2 linked regions of the Homo sapiens genome follow. Each later gene encodes a partner of the first gene's protein in a complex. Each region holds a gene or a part of one and is shown on either strand. Other genes may lie near its edges. A codon is read from its position in the direction of its gene.

Region 1 (7,238 bases):
TTCCCATCTCATTTGTGTGTGTGGATAAAATTTAGACCCATCTTTCCAATTCCCTACAAAACTATCCTGTTGCTACTTTAATTATGAATATATTATCCTATGAATGAATCTGAGAAGGATTGATATTTTCTAGTATTTTTTTTTTTTTATGGATGAGCTGATTGTACCCTGAAGTACAATCAGAATCTACATGGTGTTTCTTAAAGGCAAGGACCTGTGGTCTCCAAGAGATGTTGACAGCCACCTAATGACATCGAGTAAGATAATCCAGAGTGTGCTGGAAGTAGGGATGGGGAAATGAAGAATCTGCCGTTTAGATGTTTACTGATTTTATTCAGCTGGTATTTATTGATGGCCTACCATGCGCCAGGCTTCTGCCAGACTTCTGCCAGACTGACCTCGAAAAGGTGAGGAAGGCATAGTCCTTGCTCCGAAGATCTAGGCTAGGAAAGAAGCACATATAAGGTATGGGTTGAGCGTCCTAATCCAAAAATCTGAAATGAAAAATGCTCCAAAATCTGAACAGTGTTGAGTGCTGACACAACATTCAGGTGAAAATGCTCATATTGGAGCATTTCAGATTTCAGACTTTAAAATTAGAGATGCTCAACTGGTAAGTATAATGCAACTATTCCAAAATCCAAGAAGGTCCGAAATCCAAAACACTTCTGGTCCAAGTATTTTGGATAAGGACTACTTACCCTGTAAAAGGATAGCTTGGCGTAGGGTGTGAGGAGATGGTAGGATGGGATCGTAGGGAGATTTCACAGGACAAGAGGGGCTTTCTGACAAGTCTCAAGGAAGAGTGGATGTTTGCTGAGTAGACAGGTTGGGAAAGAAGAGACGTCCTGCACACCGAGAAGCATACTGATGTGCTTTGTGGAATAACTCACTGCAGGTCATCCAGTGTGCTTGAAACTAAGGTGAAAGTTGTCAGGAGCTGGGATGGAAAGGCCTAGAGCCGGTCCAGGAGGCGCTCCCAGCCTGCAGAGGCGGGCTGTTGTAGCTGGCCCCTCTGGAGCACAAGCTTCTCTGTGAAACCAGGTTTGTTTCATTTTTCCCCAAGACTTTGTTGCAGACTGATAGTTTATAAAATGTAATGCAGCCCTATAACTAGAAATACGAAAACTACAGCCCTCAAATTTCTTTAATATTAAGATTTGAGAGACATAAAATTAGTCTATCGAATTGCTATAAAAGTTTTAAATGTTCATTCTCCGTTTCTGTATCTAGCTTTTGGGGACTAGGAACACCTGGTGCTCGAACCCCTCTGGATCACACTTGGGTAGCACCGTGCTAGCCTCCCGGATCAGCGGGAAAGACGTGGTGGCTGTGGCTGGGAATGTTACAATAGTCAAGGTAGACCTGTGAGACGGTGTCCACGAAAATGGTTGCCACCCGGAGGCTGAGAACTGCTGTTCTAAGTGATGCTGAGTCCCTTAAGGGACGTTACCAAATATTTTATTCATTTTCTACAATGGTATTGTTTGAATCATTTGCTTAAATTACTATTAAAAAAATTCTTCATGTCAAAATAAGTGAATAAAATGAAATATCTTAAGGCAGGGTTTTTTTTTTTTTCCTCCCTAGATGAAAGCAATGGTTCTCAACCTTGACTGCATATTGGAATCACCTGGGACTTTAGAAGCTACTGCTGCTGGTTCCCACCTCAGATGAGTTGGGGATGCAACCTCAGCAGCAAGATTTTTAAAAGCTCCCCCCTGGTTCTAATGTGCAGCCACCTCTCTTCCATGTGGGACAATGATGGATAAAGTTTTCTGATTGAGAATTTATGTAAAAACGTAGCACAGTAAGAGTACTCCAAAACTATCAGTTAAATTTAAATCTGATACCTGATATTGTTTGTTTTCAGTGCAATGATCTCATGTATACTGGATGTTACGAGTTTTGAGTTTTCTTCAACCCTCCCCACCAAATACCATTAAGTATTTTAATTACAATTGATAGGATACATATCTTTCACTATAGCTTATTACATGTAATATAGTGTCAATAAATATTCTTATAAATGAAAGCTTGTGAAATCTTGATTCCCCTATTACTTACTTCCCCTGATGTCACCCCAGTGATTACTGTTGCAGCAATGACGGCAACAGTATTTAGTATTTAGATGTCATATAGTTTTTTTGTTTTGTTTTGTTTTTTGAGACGGAGTCTTGTTCTGTCACCCAGGCTGGAGTGCAGTGGCACAATCTTGGCTCACTGCAGCCTCTGCCTCCCGTGTTCAAACAATTCTCCTGCCTCAGCCTCCCTAGTAGCTGGGATTACAGACACATGCCACTATGCCCGGCTAATTTTTGTATTTTTAGTAGAGACAGGGTTTCACCATGTTGGCCAGACTGTTCTCAAACTCCTGACCTCAAGTGATCCGCCCGTCTCAGTCTCCCAGAGTGCTGGGATTACACGCGTGAGCCACCGCATCCGGACTCCCAAGTAAGATTTCATTAGAACACCTTGCCATGAGTGTGCCTAATAAACCCAATGCAACTATTGCTGGATTTTTTTTTTTTTTTGAGACGGAGTCTCGCTCTGTCGCCCAGGCCGGACTGCGGACTGCAGACTGCAGTGGCGCAATCTTGGCTCACTGCAAGCTCCGCTTCCCGGGTTCACGCCATTCTCCTGCCTCAGCCTCCCGAGTAGCTGGGACTACAGGCGCCCGCCACCGCGCCCGGCTAATTTTCTGTATTTTTAGTAGAGACGGGGTTTCACCGTGTTAGCCAGGATGGTCTCGATCTCCTGACCTCATGATCCACCCGCCTCGGCCTCCCAAAGTGCTGGGATTACAGGCGTGAGCCACCGCGCCTGGCCTATTGCTGGATTTTTAACATACAACTCCTTCAAATTATTTATTCAAATATTATTTTGGAATATTAAAAATATATTTTTAGAATAGTAATTCAAATGTTTAGTTTTTGTTTTTTTTTTTTCTATTTTGTTAACACGTTCTTGATGTGCTGAAAACTGAACATTCAGTGGTTCACTCGTTCAGTAAACAGTTTTTGGGCACCTGAACTTGGTTGTGCTAGGCACTGGGTAATCAAAGTTTAAGCCCCAAGTTCTTCCAATAGCAAATAGTACAGCTGCATGCCACTAGCTTCTTACACACAGGTGGGTGACATACATGCCAAATGAAAATAATTTTACCCTTTCCCTCTATAATTTCAAGTACACTTTTAATTTTTGATATTATAGCCCTATTTGCTTAAACACTCTTCCATCTCTTCTCCTCTCCTTGTCTCCTTTTTTTCTTTTCTTTTTTTTTTTTTTTTTTGAGACAAAGTCTCACTCTGTTGCCCAGGCTGGAGTGCAGTGTCACGATCTTGGCTCACTGCATCCTCCTCCTCTCAGGTTCAAGCAATTCTCCCACCTCAGCCTCCTGAGTAGCTGGGACTACAGGCGTGCGCTACCACACCAGGCTAATTTATGTATTTTTAGTAGAGATGGGGTTTCACCATGCTGGCCAGGCTGGTCTTGAACTCTTGACCTCAAGTGATCCGCCTGCTTCGACTAGGATTACAGGTGTGAGCCACTACACCCGGCCCCCTCGTTTTTTTAAATAAAATTATAACATTAGGTGGGAAAAAACACTTTAAAAGTAGTTCTGTCAACTATTTTGGGGGCTGTGGGCCAGTCATTTAATCCATCTGAACCTGTTTCCTCTGCTGTGAAAGGGTGATACCCTCCTTGCCCTGTCCATCTCAGTTGTTATGGGGATTATGGAAGAAGCTATATGTAACATTAACATCAGAAATTTAAATATCCAGTTAAAGTGTAAATGGATATTATAAAACAATCTTTAAAAGAAACAAAGACACTATATATATATATATGGCTTATGCATCACTAGCACTTTGGGTTTCCGAAACCCCAACATGAAGTTTCACGAAAGTTGCATTCCATGGGAGTTTGCTTCCATGATGGATTTTTTACTTTGTACTTAGCTCCTGAAAAAGAAACTTCCTGGGTTTTCTTTTTTCCTCCTACGGTTTTGCAGCGGCTTGGCTGCTTCCTGTCAAGAGCCACTCTGCCAAGGCCCCGTCTCTAGAGTCTCTCCCCCTCCCCTTTCTCTTTCTTTCCAACACTTGCTACATTGAGAGGCTGATCCTGTGCAGAAGCCCTCCCTGCCTCGGCAGCGCGGCGCAGTGAGCATGCTCGGCCTCCTGCGGGAAGAGGAAGCGGCGGCATAGGAGTCATGCCAAGCATAGCCCTCATGTCAGCGCTGCCGGCTTGCAGCGGGCTGTGAGAGGGGCCGGCGCCGCTTTGTCCTAGGAAACGGGCTGCGCGTTTCTCTTTTTCACTCTTTTCCATTTCCAGGAAGGACTTGTAAGGACTTCTGAAACGCTGTTTTCATACTCGATCGGGGATACAGTACATACACCGTCTACCAGTAAGCCCTTGAAGGGTTTCGTGTGAGCTCGATTTTTTTGTGCCTGATTTTTTTTTTTTTAACTTTTGCATACTTTGTTTTGATAGTCTGAGGCTGGGCCTCTGCCTTTGTGAAGTTGAAGAGCCAGGAGCTACTCAGCAACAATTGATTTTTGAAACTTAACTCTTTTGGGGCAAAAGCAAAGAGCTGGTTTTCTTTGCTAGCCCAATAAATGCTATTTATGAAGATGGACCTGTTGAACTATCAGTACTTGGACAAGATGAACAACAATATCGGCATTCTGTGCTACGAAGGTAGATGTCCCGTTGTAGAATTACTGCCCGTTGCTCGTCCCGGCCACTCCTCCTCAGTGTGCTGGGTGCCTGCCTTCTAAGCGCCCGCTGTCCTCCTCCGGGGTGTAGGGCACTTGAAAGGCCGGCGTTTCTTAGGTTCGGTTCGGCACCGAGTGTGTTCGGATCTCAGGCTGCGGGGGGCGGTGGAGGGGGCTGGACGGGGAGGCAGTGAAGTAGAAACCCTTCAAAGTTTGCTCGTTGCTTGCAACGTACTCGCGCCTCACATTTTTAACTCTTTAAAATGTATGTATTTTTGATTTCCGTTAATATTGTCTTTAGGGGAAGGACTTGTAGGACGCCGGTAAAAGTTGAGCCTCTTTGGGGGAGGGGCTGGTAAGGATTGCACCGTCTACTGTACCCTGCTGTGGGCCACGGCGCCCTGCAGCTCACGGAGGGGGAGCCAAAGTTACAGCGAGTTTTTGTGCTCGCGAGTGAGCGTCCCAAACAGCGGAGAATGTCCCTCTCCCGCGTGGGGCCGGAAGGGCACCGTGTCAGCGAGCACAGGCGGGCTCTTTGTCTCGCTGGCGCTTCCTGTGCAGCCCGGGGAGCGCTGACACTGGGGGGTGTTCCTCGCGCTCCGCTCCCTGTGGGAGCGATTACACAACACCCCGACCCCCAGCCTGCCCTGAAAAAGAGAGAGCCGCGCCGAACTGTTATTTATTACCTCCTACTGCCCGCGAGGTGCTTCCCCCACTGTCTTGTATTTCCAACTGTCTCTGGTAGCAGTCAGAGAAAAATCTATTTCTTAAGCCCTCGGACATCCTCTACGTGCGATTTGAAAAAGTGGCAATGGCCCTGGGTCTGCCGCCGAGGGCATCTCCGGGGGAGTTCGGCCTGGCAGGAAGAGTGTTTTCTGTTGTAACCACACACACATCCGGGACTCTTCTCTTTCTCATTCAGCAGGAGCAGTTTCCATTTTTTCTCCAATAATACACGGGACATTTCTCTTGAAAAAGAAAACAGTTACAAAAACTTGGGAGGGTGATTCACTTGTATTTTTTTAATCTAAAAACTTCAGGCCTGTTTCCTAATCAGTTGAAAACTCACCCTTTCAAGAGTATTTTTCCCCTTCAAGGAAAAAAAACAACAACAACCCTCATTCACGTTGTTTTTTAAAACTCTATGGATGAGGATCTCATATTTAACGTTTTTTAAAAAGAGTATTTGTTTTTCTTTACTCCTACTAGTTCCTGCTATGAGAATTTTCGTGAATTTCTTTCTTTGCATCTGATGTGTTAAGTAACATCTTGCTTCTGAACTCACTTAAAAAAGGCAGCCGACTTTAGAAAGCCGTAAGCAGCCATTGCTGGGCTTGTTTCCCGTGACATTCACACATTGTAGTCAGGGTTTTGTTTTTCTTGTTTTTTTTTTTTTTAACCATCCCCGCTTCCCCCAACAAGAAAGAAAAACTTCTGAGGCAATTTCTGTTGTATTGTCTTTGCCAACAAGTAATACGATATTTTAAAAACAAAACATAATGGCCTAAGAGAGAAATATAAGATTGTTAGGAAATTGATACCAGATTAGTTTTTCCTGTCTCCGATTGGTGAGGACCAACTTACGGACAGCGAGCCCAGGTCGAGTTGTTGTGTAGCATGCAACACCCAGGAAACTAGAGTGCTCTGCTCTGCTCTTCTCTCTCGGTATTTGGGAGGAAGAAACTTTGATTTTGAAGATTGAGTAGCTATATGGGATAATGGGCTGAAGTCTGTTTGGTTTAAACATCTGCTCCTATTTTCCTTATTATGAGAGTTAACATTATTTTAACACCAGAATAAATACAGAGGAAATGAAGGAAAGCACAGCAAAATTTGAGTGGTGTTTATAGTGAATTGTTGATGTCCTAGTGGTTTTCTCAGTGTAAACACTGCACACATCTGGTCTGAACTCCAGAGGGTGTTTTGAAGATGGGCATAAATCACACACGGGATTTTTTTGTAGGAAAAGTTGGAAAGGTTATGGTTCTTTAAAATCCAACACTTGGACTTGGAGAATATTCGTTTTAAACATATCAGCTCCCCAGCATTCCAGGGAAGTTGTTTGGAAAATGGAATGTACTGTTGGTAGGCAACATTTGATTTCATTTAGGGCACAGTCAAGTTTCATGCCCCTTAAGAATAAGGGACAAATTAATTTTATGACATTTTAGTTTTAAAAATTAAGATGCGGATGGTTAATTATTCTTACCAGCTAAATTATACCATATTCCTTAGTTGTATGAGACATAGCTCTACTCTAAAATAAACCATGTGTCTGGTCTTTTTTTTTTTTTTTTTTTTGGTGATGAAGTCTCGCTCTTGTCCCCCAGGCTGGAGTGCAATGGCGCGATCTTGGCTCACTGCAACCTCTGCCTCCCGGGTTCAAGCCATTCTCCTGCCACAGCCTCCTGAGTAGCTGGGATTACAGGTGCCTGCCACCATGCCCGGCCCATTTTTGTATTTTTAATAGAGATGGGTTTCACCATGTTGGGCAGGCTGGTTTCAAACTCCTGACCTCAG
Region 2 (7,349 bases), on another chromosome or scaffold:
GGCTTCAGTGAGTGTTTTAAATATTCTAAGTTAAACCCACATCCAGATATTCCAGAAAAGTGCATTTCATCCTGCTTTTTCCAAAAAGTCAATAGGAGGTTTACTGGCATCAAATGGCTGTTGAATCCCTTCCAGTTCTACAAATTTCCTTGCAGACTGAGCAAGTGTGTGACCTCAATCTCTCCTTTGTCTATTTTGTCTGTTTCTCACTTAGCTCTTTAAATTCTGACACAGTGAGTATTTAACCTTCATCAAGATCCCAAATTTTGCTCTAAATAGGGACCTATACATACGTTGACATATAGGCTGCCGACTAACAGCTTCTGTGTACAATATGTGGATGATTAAGAGCTCCTGTGATTTTATCTGGCTTGATTCTTAGACCCTCCACAGAGAGTTTATCTCCTCCACATGCAAAAGTCTCTTTAATATCTGTATGCTCTGTGCACAGGGGAGGTAGGCTATAGAGAGAGGTCAAACAGAGGGAAAGTATTTCTAAAAAAGAATATTTGCAATTTGAAAAACAGTAAGATTGTCTCATAAAATGCTGTTACTAAGAAGGAAGACTCTCATATCAATTACAGAAGGTTCATTTATGTCATGGTGCTCCATAGTATGTGTAGATATATTCATATAAACAAATGTGTTCAAATATATATAACTTATTTAAAAAATTGGAAAAGCCCTGAATATCACGTGTGCTCTTCAAACCTTACGACACTTTTGCCAAAGCTGAAGAAACCCGCAATGATGTCCACAGAAATCCAGATGAAATGTGGCTGCATTTTTTCTCTTCTTCAAATACGCCAAGATCAGAGTTTAAGAAGCTTTAGCATGGTTGCAACATCATGCTATTTAAGGAAACTGCACTCTAAAGAATGAAGGCTGTGATTCCACCTCTGGATAGAGGGTGAAAGCCACGAACTCAGCAGTTCCTAGGAATACCATCTATCTCCTGGACAGCACCCACAAGCTGCTGGGGGAATGGGGTTGCACCCCTCTTGCAGCTGCATAACCTGGGGGCAAAGTTCCAATAAGGTACTCTTGTAGGAACCGTTTCTTTACACTGCTCTATAGACTGTCAGTTCAGGGCTTCCGTGTGTTAATAGCTGCTTGACTGGAGTAAGCTCTGGAAACCAGATTCAGATTTTAGATGTTTAACGTTCACGCAGTAGAAGCCCGTTTCAATCTCAGTGTCGGAAGGTCACATTAGTTCTACCCATTGAGCTATCGCTTACAACTGCTCTCTTAGGTTTGCCTTCCAAGCCACTTCCTTATTCCTGCTTTTCTGATAGTGTCATACTGAATGGCTTTCCTTTTACTCCTACACTGTGATTTTTATTTAAAAAAAAAAACAACTCTCAGAAATTAGAGCTGGAAAGGACTGTTGGTTTGTCTAGTCTCAGCAGGAGTGTTCTCCATAGAATATTTCCTTTAGTCCTTAAGACAAATTGCAACATTTTAGTGTTCTGGTGAAAAGCCAGCCTCATCCCGCTGCGTCGCCGACACTTGGCCCAGCATCTGCCTGCCTGTCCGTATATGAATGTGCAGGAGCACACTGCAGCCAACCCGGTAACCTTGACTCTGGGTGGCAAAGATGATCATAATTCTCTTTTGAGAGGACCTGGTGCCTCAAGCAAGAGGGCAGAGTCTACGTGACTAAAACATACCAACTTCCTCTTTCATAAGTCATCACATGATGAACTACAATTACAATTCCTGCCTTGTCTCTGCGAATTGCAGACGCATTGCCTCACCCTAGAAACCCTGCTCCTGTGTGTGGAGGAGGCGGCTGTAACTGCTGCAGCAGCCGCTTTGGATGGGATCCAACTCCAGTCTGTGCCGGGAGGGAGCGGTGGGTGGAAGACAAAAACAAAGCTATGTTTACTTAGCATACATCGATAAAGCTGCTTCAGAGCTACATGAAAGGCCAGGCTGCATGAAAGACTTCTGATACAATATAAGGAATTGCTGCCCTGAATCCAGCCTTAACCCCCTTGATTCCGGATCGAGCCCAGAACTAAAATAGCCCTTCCATTTTCCATCGGGCATTTCATTAGGGAAGTTACAACAACTCAGTTTCGACATGAAACTGGCAGTGTAAAATAAGAAGGAAATGCTCTTCCTTTGGAGAAGAAAAGCTCCGTTTTGCAAAGATCTTAGTATCGTGGCAGAATTTCTATCTCTAATTCTATTTTAGGATGGAGTGGCAGGCTCTCCCCTTGAGGCCATTACAGTACCAGCTTGCAGAGAAATGAGTATAATTAGGCCACAACTCTAATGGTGAGTTGTGTTTTCTTTTAGTATGTTTCAGTCAATGCTTAGTGGGGCCGTCTCTTGGGGGCGATGAGTTGGTTCATTTCTCTGCAGCACAAGGACTGGACTTCATCCCCTTTGGGCAGTGACGCAGTGGGTGAAGGCATGTACTGGAATGAGTGTCACAGGGTCTCTGAGGAGGGTGACCAAAGGGACAGGTCTTGAAAGCGGTGTGCAACAGCAGGGCCTGGGAGTGACCAAACCCGCTGGCACCAGCTACTCCCGGGAAGGATCTGGACAGGCCCCATTCTCCCAGCTTGGAGAGGGTGAGGCAGGATTGCAATTGCAGGGCAAGATCCAGGAACAGATGCAGAGACCTTTAAAACAGGCGCACCTTCTATGGAAATCCCCAAAAGACATTCAAGGTTAGCCTGTAAAAACATTTAGGTCTGACATTACGTTTTCTGTGCCATTTTCGAACAGGTTTTTTCATGTGTTTTAAGCAGCTCCCTCCACTGTTTCTCTAAGGGTGTTTTTCCTCTTCCTTGTGGTTAATCCTTTGAAGCAACCTGGTATTTTCAATAGCAACGACTAGAGAGAAACGTCAGCATGATTTTTTTTTTCTCTCCACCTACCAATCCAGTTGTAGGAAAGATAATATAATTAGTACCCTGTTCTTCCCACACTTAACCAGCTCATTCCAGTCTCAAGGGAGAGTTGTGGGCCTGTGTTCCCAACAAAAGCAGCTCCAGAGGCCGCCCTTAAAGAGCTTAAGTGTAAAAGTCCCAATTGAAGAGCGACTAAGCCTACGTGTATTAGGGAGACTAACGACCAGCCCAAAGTGATTTACCATAACACACACTAGCTCCTCCTCCCGATAAAAGTGCGAAACTCAAACATTCAATTCAGTCTGGGCTGAGTCTGAGGCTGCCAACGGTGGCAGACCTGCAGGCCGGGCTCATCCCGGCCTGGGTGGCATATAGGGCAAAAGTCCGCCTCCGTCGGCGGCCCGCCCTGCGGGACGGCGGGCCAGCCAGCCAGCCGGTCGCCCCCACGGCCCTCGGGAACCTCGCGGAGGCGAGCAGGACCCCCCCCCCCCCCACTCGCGCCCTCGCCTCCCGCCACCTCGAGTCCAAGTTCGGGCCCGGGGGCGGCGCCTCGACGCCCAGACTCGCCGAAGGGGGTGGAGCCTGCGCTGTGACGCGGCCGCGCTGGCCGTAGACCCCGGATCCCTGGAATGTGCATTCGTTCCACGAGGCCCTAGTGCCAGCGGCGCCGAGGCACGTCTGCGCGGAGCGTGCGCACTCGCGGCGGCGGCCGCCCACGGCCCCGCGCCCACGTCACGCGCCCGCCGCGCATACCTACATAAGGCAGCCGGGGCGACTGGCGCGGCGAGGCCCCCGATGAACAGGGCGGGCTGGACGGGGCTAAGAGCGGCACTTGGTGTTCGGGAGAGGCTAGTCCGAACCGCGCTCCCTCCCCTCCAGAGGGCTCCGTGGAAAACGCGCGAGCCAGCTGGCGGCGTGTGCACGTGGTGCTGGGCTTGGGAATATTCACAGTCTCCCTAGTTAGTAAAAGGGACAGGCGGGGCGTATGTCCTTTCCAAGACAAATGCAAAGCACCAGTGACGGATTTCATGCTATGTGTCCGACATTGAGCTTTCAAGTATAACTCCTAAAAAACCAGAACTGTGAACCACGCTAGACCTAAATTCCCCATTCTCAGGAGACTGACGGAAACCAAGTGACAAAGTGTCCTTGCATAAAAGAAAAAAAATGATTTTTAGCACGATTTGGCCCAGAGGCACACCAGAGGAAAACATCCTGAGGGTGGTCGGGACAGCCGGGTGGGGCGCGAAGTGAGGGAAAGTGGAGGAAAAGCACTCGATCACTTTGCGCGGTGTTCCGAAGGGAACACCGGCGCTGCGCTGCTGCGCTGCCCCGCGGGCGGGCGGGCGCCGCGTAGCCGGCTCTCCCGGCAGCGCTCCTTCGGCGCGCGGGGGGAGGGGGAGCGCGCGCGCGGGAGGGCGGGCACGCGCACGAGGGGAGGGGGCCCGCGCAGGCGCCGTGCGAGACTGTCGAAGAATCAAGTCTGTAGAAGTGGAGCGGTCGCGGCGGCAGCAGCAGCAGCGACGGTGGCGGCGGCGGAGCTGAGGCGGGCTGGCCGCTGACGCTGGCGCTGGAGAGCGGCGACGCCAGGAGCTGTGAGAGAGCGGCGGAGCGACCCGGGGCCCGCGCCGCGCCCGAGCTCCACGCCGCCCGGCCGCCGCCACCCCGGCGCGGCATGCCCCGCCGCTCGGGCTGAGCCTGCCCCGGCGGCCGCCCCCCGCCCCCTGCCCCCCCGGCCTCCCCGCCCCCCGCCCCGCACTCCGTGCCGGCCGCCGCCGCGACCTGCTGCGCTCCCCCGCGCCCGCGCGGCCCGTCTTCGCCCCGGTCTGGAGGCCCGCCGCGGCTCCGGCCGAGCCCCCACCGCCGCGCCCGCCGCCCCGCCGCGCCGCGCCGCCCGCCCGTGCCCGGGCCGGCCGGGGGGAACTGCTGCCGCGGCTGCAGCCCCTCACCTCGCGCCCGCCGCCCCTCGTGCACCGGGGGCGCTGCGCGGGCGCCGAGCCTTCGCGGGCTTTGCCGCCGCCGCCGCCGCCTTTGCGGCCGCCGCCGCCGCTGGTGGGGGAGACGCGGGGTTGGGGGGGGAGGAGGGCGCGCGTGGTGCCGGTGGGGGGCGGCGGCGGCGCCCCCTCCTCCTCCTCCGCCTCCTCCTCCGGCGTCGCGGGCTCCTCGGACATGGCCGCGGCGGTGGCGGTGGCGGCCGCGTCCCGGCGGCAGTCGTGCTACCTGTGTGACCTGCCCCGCATGCCCTGGGCCATGATCTGGGACTTCACCGAACCCGTCTGCCGCGGCTGCGTCAACTACGAGGGCGCCGACCGCGTCGAGTTCGTCATCGAGACGGCGCGGCAGCTCAAGCGGGCGCACGGCTGCTTCCCGGAGGGTCGCTCCCCACCCGGCGCCGCGGCCTCGGCCGCCGCCAAGCCGCCGCCGCTCTCCGCCAAGGACATCCTTTTGCAGCAGCAGCAGCAGCTTGGCCACGGCGGCCCCGAGGCGGCCCCGCGCGCGCCGCAGGCCTTGGAGCGCTACCCGTTGGCGGCCGCGGCCGAGAGGCCCCCGCGCCTCGGCTCTGACTTCGGCAGCAGCCGCCCGGCAGCGAGCCTGGCCCAGCCGCCGACGCCGCAGCCGCCGCCCGTGAACGGCATCCTGGTGCCCAACGGCTTCTCCAAGCTAGAGGAGCCGCCCGAGCTGAATCGCCAGAGCCCGAACCCGCGGCGCGGCCACGCGGTGCCGCCCACCCTGGTGCCGCTCATGAACGGCTCGGCCACGCCGCTGCCCACCGCGCTCGGCCTCGGCGGCCGCGCTGCCGCCTCCTTAGCCGCGGTGTCCGGAACCGCGGCCGCCAGCCTGGGCTCCGCGCAGCCCACCGATCTGGGCGCCCACAAGCGGCCGGCATCCGTGTCGAGCAGCGCTGCCGTGGAGCACGAGCAGCGTGAGGCGGCAGCCAAGGAGAAACAACCGCCGCCGCCTGCGCACCGGGGCCCGGCCGACAGCCTGTCCACCGCGGCCGGGGCCGCCGAGCTGAGCGCGGAAGGTGCGGGCAAGAGCCGCGGGTCTGGAGAGCAGGACTGGGTCAACAGGCCCAAGACCGTGCGCGACACGCTGCTGGCGCTGCACCAGCACGGCCACTCGGGGCCCTTCGAGAGCAAGTTTAAGAAGGAGCCGGCCCTGACTGCAGGCAGGTTGTTGGGTTTCGAGGCCAACGGGGCCAACGGGTCTAAAGCAGGTAGGGGCGGCTGTGAAGTGAGGGGGTCTAGGGGAGAAAAGGGGACGGAGAGCAGAGGAAGGGTGGTTCTTTGGATTCACCATTTTACCCCAGCCCAGAAACAACAAACACCCCACTTCCTGATCTGCCTGAGGCGGAACCAGTGCTTGGTGGCAACGTGTTCATGTGCTGAAGCAGCATAACAGAGATGAGTCAGACTGGGCTGATACGCTCTGACACGGGGTTTTCCTTTCCCAGCACATTCTTGGATGGGAGCATGAGGGCACCAGTCACCTTTTAACCTATTGGGGGACATTAGCAGTCACATGTTGAGTGCAAACGAGGGTACTTTTGTGCATGTGTACAAACAGGCAGTTACAAGCGTGTCATTTTCAGTGGCTCCATTTTAAATCAGTCTGCTGCCTCAGAATCCCGTACGCCTGAAGGTTTTAAGTTGCATGTGCACCTGAAACTCGTATATGAGTATTTTCTGTCTGTGCTTTTAGAGAGGAGGAATTCTGTAACGACTTTTGTTTCGGGTTAGGAAGAGAATGATCTCTTTCAGTGCACCGCCACTTATGTTACCTTTTTCCTTTTATTTCTTTGTGTTTCCAGTTGCAAGAACAGCAAGGAAAAGGAAGCCCTCTCCAGAACCAGAAGGTGAAGTCGGGCCCCCTAAGATCAACGGAGAGGCCCAGCCGTGGCTGTCCACATCCACAGAGGGGCTCAAGATCCCCATGACTCCTACATCCTCTTTTGTGTCTCCGCCACCACCCACTGCCTCACCTCATTCCAACCGGACCACACCGCCTGAAGCGGCCCAGAATGGCCAGTCCCCCATGGCAGCCCTGATCTTAGTAGCAGACAATGCAGGGGGCAGTCATGCCTCAAAAGATGCCAACCAGGTTCACTCCACTACCAGGAGGAATAGCAACAGTCCGCCCTCTCCGTCCTCTATGAACCAAAGAAGGCTGGGCCCCAGAGAGGTGGGGGGCCAGGGAGCAGGCAACACAGGAGGACTGGAGCCAGTGCACCCTGCCAGCCTCCCGGACTCCTCTCTGGCAACCAGTGCCCCGCTGTGCTGCACCCTCTGCCACGAGCGGCTGGAGGACACCCATTTTGTGCAGTGCCCGTCCGTCCCTTCGCACAAGTTCTGCTTCCCTTGCTCCAGACAAAGCATCAAACAGCAGGGAGCTAGTGGAGAGGTCTATTGTCCCAGTGGGGAAAAATGCCCTCTTGTGGGCTCCAATGTCCCCTGGGCCTTTATGCAAGGGGAAATTGCAACCATC

Evidence for each region.
Region 2: the proteins of VGLL4 (region 1) and IRF2BP2 are in contact, whole or in part, in a crystal structure (PDB 8YTF), measured with the Homo sapiens proteins. Residues at the interface, in NP_055482.2 of Homo sapiens: Arg161, Ser163, Val164, Ile165, Thr166; in NP_892017.2 of Homo sapiens: Thr516 (codon at 7,173), His517 (codon at 7,176), Phe518 (codon at 7,179), Val519 (codon at 7,182), Gln520 (codon at 7,185), Pro522 (codon at 7,191), Phe531 (codon at 7,218), Leu557 (codon at 7,296), Trp564 (codon at 7,317), Ala565 (codon at 7,320), Phe566 (codon at 7,323), Met567 (codon at 7,326), Glu570 (codon at 7,335), Thr573 (codon at 7,344), Ile574 (codon at 7,347).

Annotation. Positions count from the first base shown.
Region 1 is NC_000003.12:11,640,900-11,648,137, reverse strand, and holds the start of VGLL4 (transcription cofactor vestigial-like protein 4), read left to right. Parts: upstream 1-4,222; 5' UTR 4,223-4,619; coding exon 4,620-4,701; intron 4,702-7,238. UniProt on the Homo sapiens protein: May act as a specific coactivator for the mammalian TEFs.
Region 2 is NC_000001.11:234,607,179-234,614,527, reverse strand, and holds the start of IRF2BP2 (interferon regulatory factor 2-binding protein 2), read left to right. Parts: upstream 1-4,349; 5' UTR 4,350-5,033; coding exon 5,034-6,081; intron 6,082-6,675; coding exon 6,676-7,349. UniProt on the Homo sapiens protein: Acts as a transcriptional corepressor in a IRF2-dependent manner; this repression is not mediated by histone deacetylase activities. Represses the NFAT1-dependent transactivation of NFAT-responsive promoters.